Linked DNA regions of Homo sapiens: region 1 is linked to region 2. Evidence: fine-mapped expression QTL. A gene starts in region 2. The other region holds a variant in brackets. All regions are shown on one strand. Distances are between the middles of the regions. Region 1 overlaps GRIP1 (glutamate receptor interacting protein 1). Region 2 holds the start of GRIP1 (glutamate receptor interacting protein 1).

What was found.
Region 1: its variant is fine-mapped to the expression of GRIP1 in whole blood (INTERVAL, PIP above 0.99).

What each region holds. Positions count from the first base shown.
Region 1 is chr12:66,404,383-66,409,765 of GRCh38, forward strand. GRIP1 (glutamate receptor interacting protein 1) reads right to left here. Exons shown (of 25, transcript NM_001366722.1): 16 at 1,901-2,046. Among named protein-coding and RNA genes, the nearest start is that of HELB, 100 kb to the left of the region's middle. RefSeq lists an enhancer at 3,443-3,943. The variant C/T (reference allele first, on the strand shown) is at 3,292.
Region 2 is chr12:66,676,591-66,681,973 of GRCh38, forward strand. It overlaps GRIP1 (glutamate receptor interacting protein 1), which reads right to left and starts at 2,486. Exons shown (of 25, transcript NM_001366722.1): 1 at 2,260-2,486. The coding sequence starts at 2,314.

The DNA.
Region 1 (5,383 bases), 270 kb before region 2:
ATGAAATTATATACAGTAGACGTTCTCTTAACCAATCTCCACTTAACCAATTTACTGAATTAATTGTGGCTGTTCGTCTTCCACCATAAAATGTACAGACCAATGCCATGGCATGCTCCAGAGCAATAGGTTTCTTTATGTTGCCCCTCTGGGCTTCTGCTCCTGCTCCTGCTTGAGTTGTAAACTTCAAAATCTAGAGGCAATTATATTTATTCCTAAACCCGTTTATGCCAGCTGTACTTGTTATTTTAACTATGTAATTTAATTAATCTTATATAACCTATGAAATATGAATGTAGTTGTTCTATGAAAACAAAATCCAATGGTTTGGAAAGATTCAATAAGGGTTCGTTAGGCAAAAATCTATGGCCAGGCGCAGTGGCTCACACCTGTAATCCCAGCACTTTGGGAGGCCGAGGTGGGCAGATCACTTGAGGTCAGGAGTTTGAGACCAGCCTGGCCAACATGGCAAAACTCCATCTCTACTAAAAATACAACAATTAGCCAGGAAAGGTGACACACACCAGTAGTTCCAGCTACTCAGGAGGCTGAGGCACAAGAATTGCTTGAACCTGGGAGGTGGAGGTTGCAGTGAGCAGAGTTGGCGCCACTGCACTCCATGGCACACTCCAGCCTGGGTGTGCCACACAAAACAAGAAACAAACAAACAAAACATCTACTGTTAATTACCTAATGGAAAAACTCTACAACATTGGGGAAAACCAAAATCTAGGTGGAGGAAGAATTCAGATTGCTATAAATTCTTTAAAGTCTCACTGCATTAAAAACCAAACCAAACCAAAATAAAACTGGAAATCATAAAATATATATTGTGGATACGGTTTAGGCAAACAAACAAAAAGACTTGTAAGTATAATCAGCAGAACCATATTAATAGGAAAGGCCTTGACTTTACCCACGAGATTGGCAAAATTGTAAATTAAACGTTTACTTTATGGATCCATATCACATTCTGTAATTCCCCACATTAGCTGACTCTTTTGGTGAATGGACACTTTTCAATTGGCTCTATATTCTTATCATAATCAGATAAGATGTCTCTTATTTCAGGGCTACCCAAAGTGTGCTCCTTGCACCACAGCTGTGGCAGCATCTGGGTGTTTATTAGGAATCCAGAATCTCAGGTCCCACCTGGGGTGGTGCCAGGATCTGTGTTTTAACAAGCTCTTCAGATATGATTCTATGCCCTCCTAAGTTTGATTGGAGGGCCTAAAAAATGTGTATAGCCCTTTTGAAAAGCAACATGGGGCATGACTGACTCATCAGGAATCATAGACATTTCCTTTGTATTCTTACTCAGCCATCCTGCTTCTAGGAATATTTTCTTATTTCAAAAGAAAAAAAAAGCTGGATAAAGATATCTATGCATAAAGATGTCTATAAGAGTACTATTTACAATAATGAAACAATTGGAAGCAATATAGTGATTTAAGAAGAGAAGAAAGGTAAATCACAGGCAGTCAATAAAAATGATAGATATTAAGAGTTTATAAAACGATCAAATGTTTACAATGTAAAATTAGGTAAAAAAATGCAACATTCACTTGGTTATAGTTATGCCATATGAATACCAATAAAAACTAGAAAACTACCAGTTTCACTGTATTAGATGATGATTTAGATTTCATCTTTAAAAATTATTTTCATGCAATTATAATATGTTTTCTATAATGAAAATATCTTAATGATATCATTTACAAGCACCATTATTTAAAATTTGTACTACACTCTCAGCACAAAATTTAAAGACTCTTTTAGCTGTGAAACACTGCTGCCACATCACTAGCCAGCTGTTGTATGTAAAACATCAAGATCTAATATCTTTGGTGACAGATGGGCAGTTCGAAAAATCAGTTTTAACTAAGGATGCTCTCAATACCTGAATTATCTTCATCTTTGCGGATTTTGAGCTTCACCAGGTCTTCACATTGCTGGAGGATCTGAACTGCATCTTCCATGGAACAGTTGTCCAGCCGGATATTATCTATTGCGAGCAATTTATCCCCAAGTTCCAGGGTCCCAGTTCTGTTAGTGAATGCAAAGTAACACATGACTAATGATGAGCACTTAACTAGGCCATTTAAAGAGGCATTAAGCATAATGCAGCATTATGGTAGTCTTTAGAGGAAAAGAGGTTCAACTGTTTTTAAATTGTACTTCATTGACAACTCCCTCCCTTCTTCTAGTCTTATTTGGGTTGCCTGCCATGATATTAAATTGCAGAGTATTAAAAACATTTTTTCTTATACTTTTTTCAATTAAACAAGAACATATGTGTCACTCAGGAAGCATACAATTCCTAGGAAGGGAGGTAATGGGCGAGGGTCTGCATAGACCCAGGTATCCTTGTCTTTCTCCATATTGTTGTATTACTTTTGATCCTTGGTAGTCCAGATACTAGGAGAGCATTAAGAGAATGACAGAAGGCAAGGTGTAATAGAGTTAGTGGAAGCCTAAGGCTTGCACCTCTGCTACTTCCACTTGCATCTGGAAACTCACTATGGCCAGAGTAGCATGAAAATTTATAGATGAATCCATAGCTTCTTATTTGGAAAGTGGCCACTGAGACTCTAAAACTGGCTGTGGACCAGGGTAGGTCTGTTGAAAAAAATTTTAAGGTCCATAATGAAACAACAAAAAAAATAATGTGAATGTAGTATGTATATGTTTCTATGTGTGTATATGTATATATACACAGATTTGTAAGAACAGCCTTTTATGCATTATATCTGTGCCAGAGACTGCTAATTGTCTCCCAGCATCCATTCTCCCTTCCCTTCTTTTAAGTTACCCTCTAAAAATGCATGCCCCAGACTCTCTGGGGACCCTCCCCACCTCCTGCCTGTAGCTAGAAAATGGTAACAGGAGGGAGGCGGAGCAAGGTGGCTGAATAAAAGCCTCCACTGATCATCCTCCTTGCAGGAACACCAAATTTAACAACTATCCATACAGAAAAGCACCTTTATAAGAACCAAAAATCAGATGAGCAATCACAGTACCTGGTTTTAACTTCATATCATTGAAAGAGGCACTGAAGAGGGTAGGAAAGAAAGTCTTGAACTGATGATGCCGGCCCCTCCCCCATTCCTTCTGCAGCAGCCACATGGCATGGAGAGAAAAACTGTGCACTTGTGGGAGGGAGAACACAGTGAGGGAGAGACTGCATTGAAACTCAGTGCTACCCTGTCACAGCGGAAAGCAACACTGGGCAGAAGTCAGCTGATATCCACGGAGGGAACATTTAGATCAGCCCTAGGCAGAGGGGAATCA[C/T]CCATTCCGGTGGTCAGAACTTGAGTTCCAACACGCCTCACTGCTGCACGCTAAAGTGTTCTTGGGTACTAAATAAACTCAAGACAGTTTAAAGCCACAAAGACAGCAATTCCTGGACAAGCCCTGATGCTGTGCTGAGCTCAGAGCCAGTAGACTTGGGGGGCATGTGACCTAGTGAGAAACCAGCTGGGGTGGCTAAGTGAGTGCTTGCAACACCCCTCCCCTAGCCCTACACAGCACAGCTCACAACTCCCAGAGAGAGTCCTTCACTCTAACTGAGTAGAGAAGAGGGGAGAGTAAAGAAGACTTTGTCTTGCAACTTGGATATCAGCTCAGCCATAGTACGACAGGGCACCGGGCAGAGTCCTAAGGCCCCTTTTCTAGGTCTTTGCCCCGGGATAACATTTCTAGACACACCCAGGGCTGCAAGGGAACCTGCTGCCTTGAAGGGAAGGACCCAGTCCTGGCAGCATTTTTCACCTGCTGACTAAATATCCCTCGGGCCCTGAATAATCAGCAGCATGGCTGGGCGCGGTGGCTCATGCCTGTAATCCCAGCACTTTGGGAGGCCGAGGTGGGTGGATCACTTGAGACCAGGAGTTCAAGACCATCCTGGCCAGCATGGTGAAACTCGGTCTGTACTAAAAATACAAAAGTTAGCCAGGCGTGGTGGTGCACGCCTGTAATCCCAGCTATTCGGGAGGCTGAGGCAGGAGAATCACTTGAACCTGGGAGGTGCAGGTTGCAGTGAGCCGATTGCACCACTGCACTCCAGCCTGGGCAACAGAATGAGACTCTGTCTCAAAAAATAAATAAAATTAAATATAATAAAAAAATAAAATCAGCAGCAGTAGTCAGGTAGTACTTGCTGTGGGCCTTAGGTGAGACTCTGAGTTGTGCTGGCTTCAGGTGTGACCCAGCACATTCCCAGCTGTGGTGGCTATGGGGAGAGGCTGTTTCTGCTTGAGAAAAGCAGAGGAATAGTAAAAAGGACTTTATCTTGAAGCTTAGGTACCAGCTCTGCAACAGTAGGGTAGAGTACCAAGTGGGCTCTTGGGTTCCCTGATTCTAGGCCTTAGCTCTTGGACGTTTGTGGACCTGCTCTGGGACAGAGGGGAGCCCATCGCCTTGAAAGAAGAGTCCCGGCCCTGGCAGCATTCGCCACAAGCTGACTGAAGAGCCTTTGGGTCTTGAGTGAACATCAGCAATAGCCAGGCAGTACTTGCCATGGGCCTGGAGCAGTGGTGGCCAGGGGGAGAGACTTCTCTCCTTGAGGAAAGGATGGGAAGGACTTTGTCTTGTGTCTTGGGTGCCAGCTCAGCTATAGTAGAATAGAGCACCAGGTAGATTCCTAAGGTTTTTGACTCTAGGACCAGGCTCCTAGATGGCATCTTTAGACCTGCAAGGGGCCAGGGGGAGCTCACTGCCCTGAAAAGAAGGATACTACCCTGGCTGGCTTTGCCACCTGCTGATTGTAGAGCCTTTGGTCCTTGAGTGAACATGGCCTAGTGGTAGCCAGTAAGGGTTTACTGGCAGCCATAGTTGAGACCTAGTACCACGTTGGCTTCAGGTCTGAACCAGCATAGTCTCAGTGGTGGTGACCAAGGGGTGCTTGTGTCACCCCACCACCCCTCAGCTTCAGGCAGCTCAGCACTGAGAGAGAGACTATATCTGTTTGGAAGAAAAGGAAGAGAACAAGAGTCTCTGCCTAGTAATCCAGATGATTCTTCTGGATCTTACCCAAGACCACCAAGGCAGTATTTTTGAGTCTGCAAGAGCCATAGTGTTACTGGACTTGGGGTGCCCCCTAATGGAGATACAGGTGAAGTGACCAAAAACTTAGATCACAACACCCAAGCCCCTTCGAATACTTAGAAAGCCTTCCCAAGAAGGACAGGTACAAACAAGCCCAGACTGCAAAGACTATAATAAATACTTAACAATTCAATTCTCAGACACCAATGAACATCCATGAGCATCAAGACCATCTGAGAAAACACGACCTCACCAAGTGAACTAAATAAGGCACGAAAGACCAATCACAGAGAAATAGAGATGTATGGCCTTTCATACAGAGAATTCTAAATTACTG
Region 2 (5,383 bases):
TGTAATGCCTTGTGCTAAATGTCTGGAAGAGTGAGTGTTAGGTGGAGCCCTCAATGGGTATAAAGAAATATGTATGTTTGGGAGTTGAGGGTGAGGGTGTGGGAGTTGTGTGAGTAGGGAGAATGGGACAAGAAAGAAACTTCAAGTGTATATCCACCCCTGTCCCCAAATACACTCCTGACCCTAAAAGAAAGGTCATTTTAATATTGTAATTACATATGTTTCCTGGTTTTATCATTACAGCTTAAGAAAACAGCACCACAAGTATGGGTGGGGTGCTAGAACTCAATGAATCCACTTTGGAACAAGAAGCATGGGTGGAACTTGAACGTTGTTGGACAAGACTGAAGCAGATGGCAAGGCAAGGTACCGTGTTACTCAGGTGCATTCTTGTAAGTATTTGGACAGCCAGTTAAACACAAAGAAGAACCCAATTATGGCAAATTGATTCTGCAAAGAGATTTTATTTTAATCATCAACTGACAGTCTTAAGTTAAATACCAAATAGAGCAGACATAAAGATTTTGGAAAAAAGTGTGAGGTAGCAACTCCAAAGCAGTTATCAATACTTTCCTCAATTATCTAGATTTTTAGCGACTATCTTAGTAAACACTTAAATCTCCTTTCAATGCAGGAGATCAATGCTTCCATAAAATTCAGAAAACTGAGAAAGTTAAAAATATTTGTAAGAACTATAAATTGCTTGGGTTCACTCTCTTCCTTGTATGTAGTACTTATAAAAGAACTGATACAGATGAATAGAAAATACTGATTGTTTCATGTTTATGATGTAAGAAGACCATCAACTTCTCAACATCAAGATAAGTAAATGCCAAAATCAGGTCAGAAAAGAACTTTTCAGAATAAGGGCCTGCCTTTAAAAGTCTCAGCCAAAACCGTAACAGAAAGGATAGTCTCTTAGTCATGATTTATAAACAGAAATTGTACGTCTGTACCAATTGTAGAGGATAAAGTCAAAACAGAATTTACAGCCTCCTGCTAATAGCCTAATTTAAAATGTATAATCTTCCCTACATTTCCCCCAAAGTACCTTTTAAAGGACTCACTCTGCTATCCAAACAACTTGCAAATGCATTCGGTAAGTTGGTCTACAGTATTTATTCTCTTTCCTGTTATTGACTCAAGATCTATTTCTCATGATTTGCTTTGTGCTCATTCTTCTGCCAGATAAAATATTAATTGCATTTTTAGCTGCACTGCTGGTGATCAAAGAATTCTGATATGTCAAGCTAAACTGACAGAAATAGCATCCATTAACATATTTATAGGTTCAGAGCTTCTAGAACATAATTATATCCATTAATTACTCAACAGTACTCTATATTACAGGCTGAAAAAGAAAGGCATTTGCAACTAAATACTTTTACTCAGAATGAAGTTTTTTTTTAAATAATAAATTTTCTCTAAGGAAGGTTCTATCTAAAGGAAATAAGGCAAGAGAGCTCACATATCTATATGGACACAAGGCAGGATTTTTAAGGCATCCATTTACTAACTTTGCAATAGAATGCTCACAAAGTAAACGAGATGGCACATCCAGAATGGTTTCAAATAAAATAATACCTTAAATATTACAGAGAAATTTAATTACTATTTTAGAGTTCTAAGAGTGACAATCTGAAGCTGGTAATTCTTGATGATAAGATTCCGAGCAATGATTTTTACTTTCAAATAAACTTCTAGTATTACATAGGACCAAAGCATTTGGAATTACATACTTTTCTGAACATGCAATTCTAACACATAAAGAAATTAAAGCTGTCCAGGGAAAAAGCTCTTAAGATGTTGGAAAGTCATAGAACAAACAATTATTCTGTGGATCCACCAGCTGTGCGAGTCCTGAATCTGCCAGCTGCATTTAGTATATGTATCATAGAAAGGACAGTAACACACACTTGACTCCTTTTGGCCAGTTAATCAGCATGCAAAATGACGGTTTCCCACAATAACTTCAGCACCGGACCCAAACACATTCTCTTTTCAGCAAAGAATGAAGTCATTAAAAAAAAAATCACACAAGCTGCTTTCATAATTTCAGCACGAACACAACCGAGATGTAAGGACAGAAAGCAAAGCCGAGTCTACCTGTACATATGTATCTATACATATTTCACTGAGTTCTTTGTTGCCTGACAATAAATTGCAAAGGCAGTCATATTTGAAAGTAAAAACCATTAAACTGTGTTTATAGGATACTGCAACAGACTCGCTGAGGGAATAACAAGGAAAGCACGATACCTTTAGTAAGTCGCCTCAGAATTTGACAACGGCATTTAAAAGAGACAGCTATCATTCTTGCTCACTGCTTTCTGTGGCAAAGTGTACTCAAGGCTCTCTGCTCTGGTGGCTGCAGCAGCAGCAGCATATGAATTCCTTGCGCACATACCAGGAGAAAGGTAGTCCCAGTGGGGAGTGACAAAGCTTAATTCCTCTTGGCTGATGCAGAGGTCCGCTACATGTCATCTGGCAAATCTGTGTCATTCACTACTACTACCACCCCTGCCTGCCACAGCCTCCTCCCCCTTCACAATCACAATGGCTTAGAAAGTAATGCCGTTTCGATAGCAACAAAGCACCAAATTGTACAAAGCAGGGACGACACTGTGTGAGGAGCCATTCCATAAATCTAACGCTAAGCACTGAACAGTGCATTCTGTTTAAGGCAAAAGGCGATGTATCCAGTCAGTTCAGCCACCATCAGCCCCTTTCCTTCTCAGCATCAAGTCAGTGTCCTTTATATGTCTCATTTAATGGGAAATGCAAGTGAAATGCTTACACTCTTACTTTAGGAAGAAATGCATGGGTCATGTACTATGTTCTTTAAACAACAACCAAAAAAAAAAAAAAAAAAAAGGAAAGAAAAAGAGGGAGGGCCGTTTATATTTGGGATTGAGGAAAGAATCACAGTTCTGCCTATAGCGGGGAAGCAGCTCTAGGACAGAGACCTCTTTGGTACTTCCTGAACCTATGAGAGTTAAGGCAGTGTCTGTTTATAGAGGGAATACAAGAAAGGGTTAGGGCTAGGCAGACAATCAGGCAGATGGAGTCCCAGCCCCTTTAATCACCCTTCCAAAAAAGGACTTGGCTGGAAAGCAACACAGTCAAGACTGTTTCTAAAGATACCAGAAATAAAGGCAAACAAGGCCAAGTATTTCTATTTTTAATATACTTTATTATACTATTTCCCAAACAACCATCCCCCAAACCATTCTTCTCATTATGCAAATAAAACGGTCTTGCGACATAGCAGATATTTGTGAGTATCTGCTCCAATGGAGTGAAGAGCAAATTAACAAACCCTTCACAATCCATTCACAAAGTGATAAGAAGGCGGAGCACACCTCCTCATCTGCCAGCAGCAGCCTGCTCGCCATATAGTCAATACGAACTAACATTTGGTAGGGAATTTTAATCAAAATCCAGAATTCTCCCACAGGAGTTAACATAAACATTCAGGACAAAAAATTAGACAGTTGGCCAGGAAGTTTAAGAAAAAAAAAATCAATTAGTCAAAATGAAAAGATATATCACTGTCTAAACTACTTGATTAATATTTCTAGGACTTTATGAATTATTCATACAGTTTTATTCTCTACTCTTCAGGCTGTGAAAAAACTTTCAAGCTGGTTTTTAAAATAACTTCCAACATTCCAAATTTAGTGGTAAAACTTTCTTTTCTTCATTCATAAATTCAATATGAACTCAAACAATTTCAATCCACTGCTATTGAAATGCATATGCTTTGTATTTTGAGTCCAATAGAAAAATAATTTGTGTGTGAAAAACATCTGAATATCATAAGCATCTACTTTAAAGGTTTTTGAAAAGAACAGAATTCTTTTACCAAGGATGGTCTAGCTAAAGCAACCACTAATCAATAGAAAATACTATATTAAATGGACTGCAGTGCAAAATCAAATTTTTATAATTGTTCTGATTAGCATAAATCTTTCTTTGAATTTCAACCCATATTATGTTCATCTCTATTAGGTTATCCCTAGAAATAGTTTAGCCTCCTTGATATTTTTTTGCTTTAAATAGAAATATACCTTAGTACTAGAGAACTGAGTTACTAGCTAAAGTGAGATAAATACTTACAGTTAGCTCTTTCCAAGATTCTTCTCCAAATCTAACATATTTCCTAAAATCCAGGCACTCAGAATACGCAGCTGTCAATTACTATTAGTAGAATCTTGCCTGTGGAACACCACCACCCCAGCCCAGTCTATTCAAATACAACTCAAAACCATACAGGAATCTCTTGCCTTCTGCTATTTTGCAGACTCAAATCCAATTTGCTTTTTCCTTATGACTAAAATGATCAAATATTTTCCCCTTTTCCTAATATGCTTATTTTTTTTGTTTTGTTTTAAAAGCTCTATCCTCTGGTCCCAAGAAAGGTCTTCAGAACTACTAAAATGTCCTATTTCTTTGGCAGGGGAAATAACCCATCATGGAGCTCTTTGAAAGGTTTCTGAGAGCCCAAACTAGGGGATTGTTTTTTCTCTCTTTGAATACTGTGGCTGCCAATCCATATCTATCCTATTAGTCTGCCCAGGTGCAGCCCCAGGAATCTTACAGAAATGGAGCCTCCTGGAGTAATTCTTTTCCAGAAAATGAACGAATTCACCAGGTATTCCCATCTTCTTCCATTTCTGGCCTCGCTAATGCTTGGAGATTTCCTGGGGAGCCACTCCCAGGTCAACCTTCTTGCCCTAAACCCTTTGTCCTCCCTTTGCCTAATGCAAGCTTAGCCTCCCATCCTGAACTCTAGCACTGGTAAAATGCCTTCCAACAATGCAAGCCTTCTATCTCAAAATGTATCGATCTGTAGGATGAAGGTCTCAAATGGCCAAGGCAACCGGTGGAATGTGGACCACAGGCTCCTAACATGAGCTACTACAAGGCAGAGTGACCTACATTTCTTGGCTACCAGATCAATGTAAGCATGTGTCTTTGGGACCTGTCATGAACATGTTAATTATGGTGGCTCAGCTGTCTAGACAGTTCAAACTTTACAACATGCTCTGTGAGGGTCACCAAGTAGGGGTTATGGAAAAAGAAGGCAGGTAAAATTGTACAAAATACAGATTTGATTAAGCCCCAATGTGATCTGAAGAAGAGTGAGTGAGCTAGTTCAAGAGGTTTACCCCTCTTAAAAACACAAACACCTCAATACATGAAAACATGGGTTTGCTGGATTCAGGGCAGACTAGTCCCTTAAGATGATAATTCTTATTTCAGGGTTTCTTTAAAACATTAGTTTTGCTAAGGTGTAATACAAGTGTACCACGTTTACATAGAATTTAATGAATTAGAAGGCACTTTCACACATAATGTATCATGGAGCGACTCTGTTATA